Regions from separate parts of the Homo sapiens genome. Here regions 1 and 2 are each linked to region 3. The links come from fine-mapping of genetic effects on plasma protein levels. A gene starts in region 3. Each other region holds a variant in brackets. All regions are shown on one strand. Distances are between the middles of the regions.

Region 1 (2,764 bases), 950 kb after region 3:
TATTTATTTGAATTATCAAATTTCTTTTGCTTTGAACTTAAGCATGCTGCAGTCATTGTTGTCTTCTTTTTTAATCTTGCAGTTATTTATCATTTCTTTTTGTAATCTCTTACAGTTTTGGTTTAGTTTTTTGACAATGCAGTTGAATATATTCTCCATGTGTTTAAGAACATTTTAAATAAGTGCCCATTTCTTTGTAATGATTTTTCTCAGAAACAAACAAATCCTCAAGCTACTCTAGTAATATTCCTACTCCAGAGTAGTACACCATAGCTCTTGAGAAGAAAAGGAAAAATAATAGTTTCTGTGTGTTTTAAGTGGAAAGTAGTTTCTTTGATTTACATGAACATTAAGGCATGATAGGTAATGACAATTTATTCCTAAAATGTATTCAGTTACCCATTGACATGGATATGTCATAACCTGTTATGCTTGACTTATAGATTTCCCCAGGGAAAATGTTCCAAGAGAGTGAGCAAAAGAAATGTTTTCTGGGGAAAGTATCAAGGCGAGAGTGTTGTTATTTCAGACATCACAACATTTCCCTATAGCAGTCTATATCCAAGAATAAATCTGTGCTAGCCAAGCAGATGAATCTGGCATTTCTGAGAATACATGTGATGGTTGAATTGAGATTTTTGGTAACAACTGTGGGTCACTCTAAGATACCCATTTCTGGACATCTCAGACTGAGAGATGACTATAAGAGGTATCATTTTAAGTCTGGAGACCAGAAAGCCTCTATACTTGTTCATAGAGCTTTTTTTTTTTCTTTTCTTTTTTATTATTATAATTTAAGTTTTAGGGTACATGTGCACATTGTGCAGGTTAGTTACATATGTATACATGTGCCATGCTGGTGCACTGCACCCACTAACTCATCATCTAGCATTAGGTATATCTCCCAATGCTATCCCTCCCCCCTCCCCCCACCCCACAACAGTCCCCAGAGTGTGATGTTCCCCTTCCTGTGTCCATGTGATCTCATAGTTCAATTCCCACCTATGAGTGAGAATATGCAGTATATGGTTTTTTGTTCTTGCGATAGTTTACTGAGAATGATGATTTCCAATTTCATCCATGTCCCTACAAAGGACATGAACTCATCATTTTTTATGGCTGCATAGTATTCCATGGTGTATATGTGCCACATTTTCTTAATCCAGTCTATCATTGTTGGACATTTGGGTTGGTTCCAAGTCTTTGCTATTGTGAATAATGCCACAATAAACATACGTGTGCATGTGTCTTTATAGCAGCATGATTTATAGTCCTTTGGGTATGTACCCAGTAATGGGATGGCTGGGTCAAATGGTATTTCTAGTTCTAGATCCCTGAGGAATTGCCACACTGACTTCCACAATGGTTGAACTAGTTTACAGTCCCACCAACAGTGTAAAAGTGTTACTATTTCTCCACATCCTCTCCAGCACCTGTTGTTTCCTGACTTTTTAATGGGAGAAAATTTTCGCAACCTACTCATCTGACAAAGGGCTAATATCCAGAATCTACAATGAACTCAAACAAATTTACAAGAAAAAAACAAACAACCCCATCAAAAAGTGGGCGAAGGACACGAACAGACACTTCTCAAAAGAAGACATTTATGCAGCCAAAAAACACATGAAAAAATGCTCATCATCACTGGCCATCAGAGAAATGCAAATCAAAACCACAATGAGATACCATCTCACACCAGTTAGAATGGCAATCATAGAGCTTTTCATTTATCTGAGTGTTTTCCTCTGCTTGTC[G/A]GGACTTGTGCTTTCACGAGCTCCTGCTCTCATATCAGGGGAGTGAATAATTGAATTTGGATAGTTTTTTGGTTTTTAGTTGGAACACTCCTTTTCCTGTGGAACGTCTATAGAAAAAATGAGTCAAACAGAGAATATGCAGGGGAGGCAACTCTGAATGCTTCCATGGCTACATACATACCTGTTTTCTTTGATTTGCTAAACCCTAAGTTAAAAGGAAAGTACTGTCTAAAATAGGGAGAAATTCCCTATATTTATACCATCATTTGAGTATTTACAATGGAGTGTTTTGTATTATAAATGTCAAAAAGGTTGAGACAGGACTCACTTAAATTAAGAGGGGAAACTTTTTTTTAATGATGGAAATAGGGGCTTAATAAACTTACATCTCCTTAACTCCTTTAATATTTGTAATAAACTATGACTGTTCAAGAGTTGAGCAGTCTCTTGTTTGAAGAAATTTATTCATTTTCCTTCAAAATTGGCACCACTTTAGAATTTCCAGTTGAGATCTATTTGGCTAAGACCTCATTTCCCATCCAATTCATTAAAATTGTTGATGTTCAAGCCAGGGAGAGGATATTTTCTGGGTCTACTTATGATGGCTCTGTATCAAACCAGCCATGTTTAGAAACCCTCCAAGGCCTATGTGATTTTTTAAAAAGAAATTTATTATGTGGAATGAAGAAGCAAACATGTTCTATTTTATACTATTCAGAGCCAAGTAATCAGCCATTTCCCTCAGGAGTCACTTGTGCTAAGAGCTGGCCTGGACCGGGAAAGGCACTGTAATGGCTGCTCATCACCCAGAGCTGCCCAAGCACTAGCTTCACCTTATAGCTCAGAGGGACCCCAATGGTCTTTTCCTTAGTGCTTAGGTTATTAGTACTAGACCTCTGAAATGCAGACCTAAGAAATGCCTGGTGATGGCACTAAAGCTGACGTCACTATGAAAAGCAGGCAGGAGGTATTGTACCCCTTGTGAGGAAGTTTAAAAGTTTCTTATAGCA
Region 2 (2,764 bases), 87 kb after region 3:
CTATCTATTCAAAAACAAACACAGATAGTCCCCAGCTTACGATGGTTTGACTTAATATTTTTTGACTTCACAATGGTGCAAAAGTGATAACCATTCAATAGGAACTGTACTTCAAGTACCCGTACAACCATACTGATTTCTACTTTCAGTATTCTATAAGTTACGGGAAATATTCAACACTTGATTATAAAAGAAGGTTTGTGTTGGATGATTTTGCCCAGCTGTAGGCTGATCTAAGTGTTCTGAGCATGTTTAAGGTAGGTTAGGCTAAGCTACGATGTTCAGTAGGTTGGGTGTATTAAATGCATTTGCAACACGATATTTTCCATCTACGGTGGGTTTATTGAGATGTAGCTCCATCATAAATTGAGAGCATCTGTACAATACACACAACGGGACATGATTCTGCCTTAAGAGGAATAAAATTCTGATACAGCCGACAACATGGATGAACCTTGAAAACATTATGCTAAGTGGAATAAGGCAGACACAGAAAGACAAAACCGTATGATACCGCTTTCACGAGGTACCTAGAATAAGCAAATTCACAGAGACAAAAAGCAGAATAATGGTTACTAGAGGCTGGGGAGTCACTGTTTAATGGGTACAGAGTTTGTCTGGGATGATGGAAAAGTTCTGGAAATGGATAATGGTGATGGTTGTACAGCATTGTGAATGCACTTTAGTGGCACTGAACTGTACACTTAAAAGTGGTTAAATGGTAAGTTTTATGTTACAAACATTTTACCACAATAAAAAAACAAGTATAGGCTGGGCACAGTGGCTCATGCCTGTAATCCCAGCACTTTGGGAAGCCAAGATGGGCGGACCACTTGGGGCCAGGAGTTTGAGACCAGCCTGGGCAATATGGTGAAACCCCATCTCTACTAAAAACACAAAAATGAGCCAGGCGCCAGTTAAAAAAAAAAGAAAAAAAAGCAATACATGCATTATATTTTAAATTGTCATTAAATGTGAATATCTGTAATATTGACTTACCTATCACCTGTTTCCTTTTCTGTTAACAGTATCTTGCATTTTTTCTTTCTTTCTTTCCTTCTTTCTTTCTCTTTTTTTCTTTCTTTCTTTTCTTTTCTTTTTTTTTTTTTTCAGAAAACACATTATCCATCCCAATCCACACCATAAAATTAGTCACATAACTCAGGCCTGGTAAATCACTGTGCTTCATCCCATATAAGAGATAAATGGTAAAAGACAGTAAAGTGCTGGGCACACTGGCTTACGCCTGTAACCCCAGCACTTTGGGAGGCTGAGGTGGGTGGATCGCTTGAGCTCAGTTTGAGACGAGCCTGGGCAACATGGAAAATCTCATCTCTACAAAAACAATGAAAATTAGCCAGGCGTGGTGGTGCATGCCTGTAGTTCCAGCTATTTGGGAGGCTAAGGTGGGGGGATTGCTTGAGCCCAGGAGATTGAGGCTGCAGTGAGCCGAGATTGTGTCACTGTACTCCGCTTGGGTGACAGAGCAAGACCCTGTCTCAAAAAAAAAAAAAAGGAAAAGAAAAAATTGAAACCCAATCCAGACAAATCTGAAAATGTTCATTTTTCAGAGGTCATTCATTTTCACTTTTTTACAAGCCAGTTTGAATTG[T/C]TTTCAGTAATTCATAAAAGAAACAGCCCTTATTTATGAAAATAATGGAAATTATGAAAATTAAGAGATATACGATAGTGGGATAGGAACAGAAGATGAGATGGTTTTCATTTCATATCATTTTACATCTTAAATTTTTTTTTCTATTTATTTTTCAATAAAGAAATAAGGTCGGCATGGTGGCTCATACCTGTAATCCCAGAAGTTTGGGAGACCGAGGCGGGTGGATCACCTGAGTGCAGGAGTTCGAGACCAGCCTGGTCAACATGGTGACACCCTCGTCTCTACTAATAATGCAAAAAAAAAAAAATTAGCTGGGCATGGTGGCAGGCACCTGTAATCCCAGCTACTCAGGAGGCAGAGGTGGGAGAATCCCTTGAACTTGGAAAGTGGAGGTTGCAGTGAGCCGAGATCGCACCACTGCACTCCAGCCTGGGCGGCAGAGTGAGACTCTGCCTCAATTTAAAAAAAAAAAGGAAATAAAAAAATCAATGTGACCAATGTAGGTTATTACCTCATGAGGCACTTGCTTAAAGCTGCCAGTCACAAGGGTGATTTAACACTTACCCTCAGCAAGCAAGGTGAGACCCTGTGAAAGGCTAGTTACCCAGCTATGAGAGATGGCAGAGGCTGAGATTACTGAAGCTCTCACTGCTAAGTTTGAATTAGATTAAGACACGAGAAACAATTGAAATGTCTGTTACAGGCTGAATGTGTCCCCCTAAAATTCATATGTTAAAGTCCTAACTCCCAATGTGACTGTAGTTGAAAACGGGGACTTTAGGGGGCTCCTAAAGGTAAATGAGCTCATGTGGGTGGGGCCCTCATCCAATAGGACAGGTGTCTTTATGAGAAGACAGAGGCACCAGGGATGCAGTAACCAGAGACAAGGCCACGTGAGGACGGAGTGAGACAGGCGGATCATGAGGTCAGGAGATTGAGACCATCCTGGCTAACACGGTGAAACCCCGTCTCTACTAAAAAAAAAAAAAATACAAAAAAATTAGCTGGGCGTAGTGGCCGGCCCTGTAGTCCCAACAACTCAGGAGGCTGAGGCAGGAAATGGCATGAACCCAGGAGGCGGAGCTTGCAGTGAGTAGAGATCTCACCACTGCACTCCAGCCTGGGGGACAGAGCGAGACTCTGTTGCAA
Region 3 (2,726 bases):
TCTGTTAACTAACAAAACCTATCACCTTGGGTATGGTACTTTCTTCAACTGAGGAGATGGAGAGTCAGCTGGGACAAGGGTTCTATAGAGGGGCTTAGAGCGGCTTAAAGGGAGTCCTTGAGCAGTCTGAAATTGTTGCCAAACTCAGTCTATTTGCATTCTGTGGAGGGGACACCACAGATTCTTAAATAGTCAAGAACTGCTAACCTGGATAAGCTTCTGAATTACTGCAGTTTACATACTGACGCATGTACTTTGAGGGAAAAGAGGTACAGGGGAGCAGCAGAGATGGCTGGCACTCATCCCACATACCCACTGCCATCCCAGGCCCATCTGAGAGGGACTTTGTCAAGGGAGGCTTGGCATGACTAGGCTGCTGACTCAGCCACTTCCTAAACTTTGGTGCCACAAGCCAGGGAGCAAAAGGCAGGGTCTAAGGCAGAGGACACACATACAGAATGCTCCTAAAGGGACAGAGGCACGGGATTGGAAAGAAAAACTGCTGGAAAGTGAACCAGACAGGGTCTTAGGGAGAGAAGGATCCTTACAGACAAGGGAGCTATCAAGATCCACAAGTCTGGCACAGGCAAGGGGAACAGCAGGGGTTCTGGAGATGGAGGCCTAGACTGGAAGGAAAGGAGAAGGAGCTGGCACTTCCTGAGCACGTACTAAGTGCTGAGTACTCTTGTGATCATCATAATCCTGCAAGGGAGGTTTATCAGTCCCAAGCAAGGGAGTTAAATACAAGTTCTGCTGTTTCTAAGTGTCCTCTGGCCCCCCTTTCTCTGCTCTGCACGGTCTGCCCCGATAATTCAGACAGCCTTAGCATTTCCTTTGGAAAGGTCAATGACAAGAGGCTGGACTATGAATCTGCAGCTGGCAAAGGAGAGAGAAAGCTTCATTCAAACAGTTTGCAACCGTCCTGGGCACCGGCCACGTGCCAGCCACGGGGCTAGGTTCCGGGAGGCACACGACTAGATCCCTGCCCTTCGCAACAGCCACTACCTGCTGCCCCCACACCCCGAGGGGAACCAGCTGGGATCTGGGCAGCCAGGGCGCTTAAGGTGCGGGGCCGGCGCCAGGCTGGAAGTGGGAAGCCAGGACTATGGCTGGGCTCAGAGGAGAGTGAGGCAGGATCGGTATGCTTCCCACCCTCCTTCCCAGCTTACCAGGCGCAAGTCCCCCGGTCCGTGCACCACCAGGGAAAGGTTGTTGGGCTTGGCCGCCGCCGCCATGGAGCTCTTTTGGCTCTGGAGTGCGGCCTGGAAGGCGCGGGACGTTTGGTCGCTCTGGTGGCGCTACCCAGCCGAGGGTCCAGGGCACTGGATGGAAGGTGGGGCCTGGGAGAAGCGCCGCACGCAGGGGCGGGACTAGGCTTCCTCCTTTGTGCCAGCCTGGGCGGCGCTAGCGTGGAGGGGCGGGGCTTCCCAGCCTCCTCCAGACCCGGAGGCGGGGCGGGGCTTCGGGAGGGGGCTGGGAGCGAGAAGCCCGGGTGCTGGCTCCATCTGCAGCGCGCTGTTTTTTTTGTTTGTTTGTTTGTTTGTCGCCGAGGCTGGAGTACAGTGGTGCGATCCCGGCTCACTGCAAGCTCTGCCTCCCGGGTTCAAGCCATTCTCCTGCCTCAGCCTCCCGAATAGCTGGGACTACAGGCGCCCACCACCACGTATTTTTGTTTAGTAGAGACGGGGTTTCACCGTGTTAGCCAGGATGGTCTCGATATCCTGACCTCGTGATCCACCCGCCTCCGCCTCCCAAAGTGCTGGGATTACAGGCGTGAGCCACCGCGCCGGCCCTGCAGCGCGCTGTTTTTGCCGCCTCACATGCAAGCACACACGGCTGCCTTGAAAACCGCCTGCAGAGGCAGTAGGCACCAGACCAGCGCTCTCAAACGTTAGCTGCAGAAGAATTGGGGTGGGGAATGTGAGGCGCTGTTGAGAATGCACATTCTCAGGACCAGCACAGAGATTCTGATACAGTAGGTCTAGGTCTGAGGTGCTGCCTGAGGGTCCATATTCCTAGCAACGAGAATGCTGAGGCTGTGGGTGGAGCACGGTGTGCACTTTGCGAGACAGGTGCTACCATGACGCAGCGTCCACGTCGGCCCTTTGTCTCCAGCCCCCAGGAAAGGGCCTGGCACGAGTAGGAGTAAATGAATTCGTGCATCATTACATGGGCCTGGTGCTTAAGTATAAAAAAGACATGAGGCCGGGCGCAGTGGCTCTTGCCTGTAATCCCAGCACTTTGGGAAGCCGAGGCAGGTGGATCACCTGAGGTCAGGAGTTCGAGACCAGCCTGACCAATATGGTGAAAACCCCGTCTCTACTAAAAATACAAAAATTAGCCGGGCATGGTGGCATGCGCCTTAATCTCAGCTACTCGGGAGGCTGAGACAGGAGAATAGCTTGAACCTGGGAAGCAGAGGTTGCAGTGAGCTGAGATCATGCCATTCAACACCAGCCTGGGCAACAAGAGTGAAAATCTGTCTTTAAAAAAAAAAAAGCCATGAAATGGAATTTGTGAACCTCTTTCTCTCAACTGGATCTGCTGCTTCTATTCAAAGCAGAGTTTCTGCCCAAACTCTTCCTTCAAGCCTCTCAGCCCTCTGAGAAACAGTGAGGTTTTACTCTCTGAGGAGAGAGGCGCTTCTAGATAGGCCTAAGTCTATAAGGCCCCTCCCTCCTTTGAGGATAATGCTCAGGATTTCATTCCCTTACAGTCCCCCCTCC

Alleles and levels. Alleles are on the strand shown, and positions count from the first base shown. The strength of an association depends on the size of the effect and on how common the allele is.
For the plasma level of the protein whose gene starts at base 1,324 in region 3, allele G in region 1 goes with a higher level than allele A (weak association).
In carriers of allele C in region 2, the plasma level of the protein whose gene starts at base 1,324 in region 3 tends to be lower than with T alone (moderate association).

The links. PIP is the chance, under the fine-mapping model, that this variant and not a neighbour inherited with it causes the effect. Protein levels are from antibody-based Olink assays in UK Biobank. Linkage for the fine-mapping came from a reference panel and not from the study's own genotypes, which makes the PIPs less certain.
Region 1: its variant is fine-mapped to the plasma level of the SORD protein (UK Biobank, PIP above 0.99).
Region 2: its variant is fine-mapped to the plasma level of the SORD protein (UK Biobank, PIP 0.93).

The regions. Positions count from the first base shown.
Region 1 is chr15:44,074,796-44,077,559 of GRCh38, reverse strand. All of the region lies in intron 1 of FRMD5 (FERM domain containing 5), which reads left to right. Among named protein-coding and RNA genes, the nearest start is that of FRMD5, 120 kb to the left of the region's middle. The variant G/A (reference allele first, on the strand shown) is at 1,755.
Region 2 is chr15:44,934,392-44,937,155 of GRCh38, reverse strand. No RefSeq gene overlaps it. Among named protein-coding and RNA genes, the nearest start is that of TERB2, 21 kb to the left of the region's middle. The variant T/C (reference allele first, on the strand shown) is at 1,613.
Region 3 is chr15:45,021,793-45,024,518 of GRCh38, reverse strand. SORD (sorbitol dehydrogenase) reads right to left here and starts at 1,324. Exons shown (of 9, transcript NM_003104.6): 1 at 1,170-1,324. The coding sequence starts at 1,235. RefSeq lists an enhancer at 1-605 and a silencer at 1,375-1,544.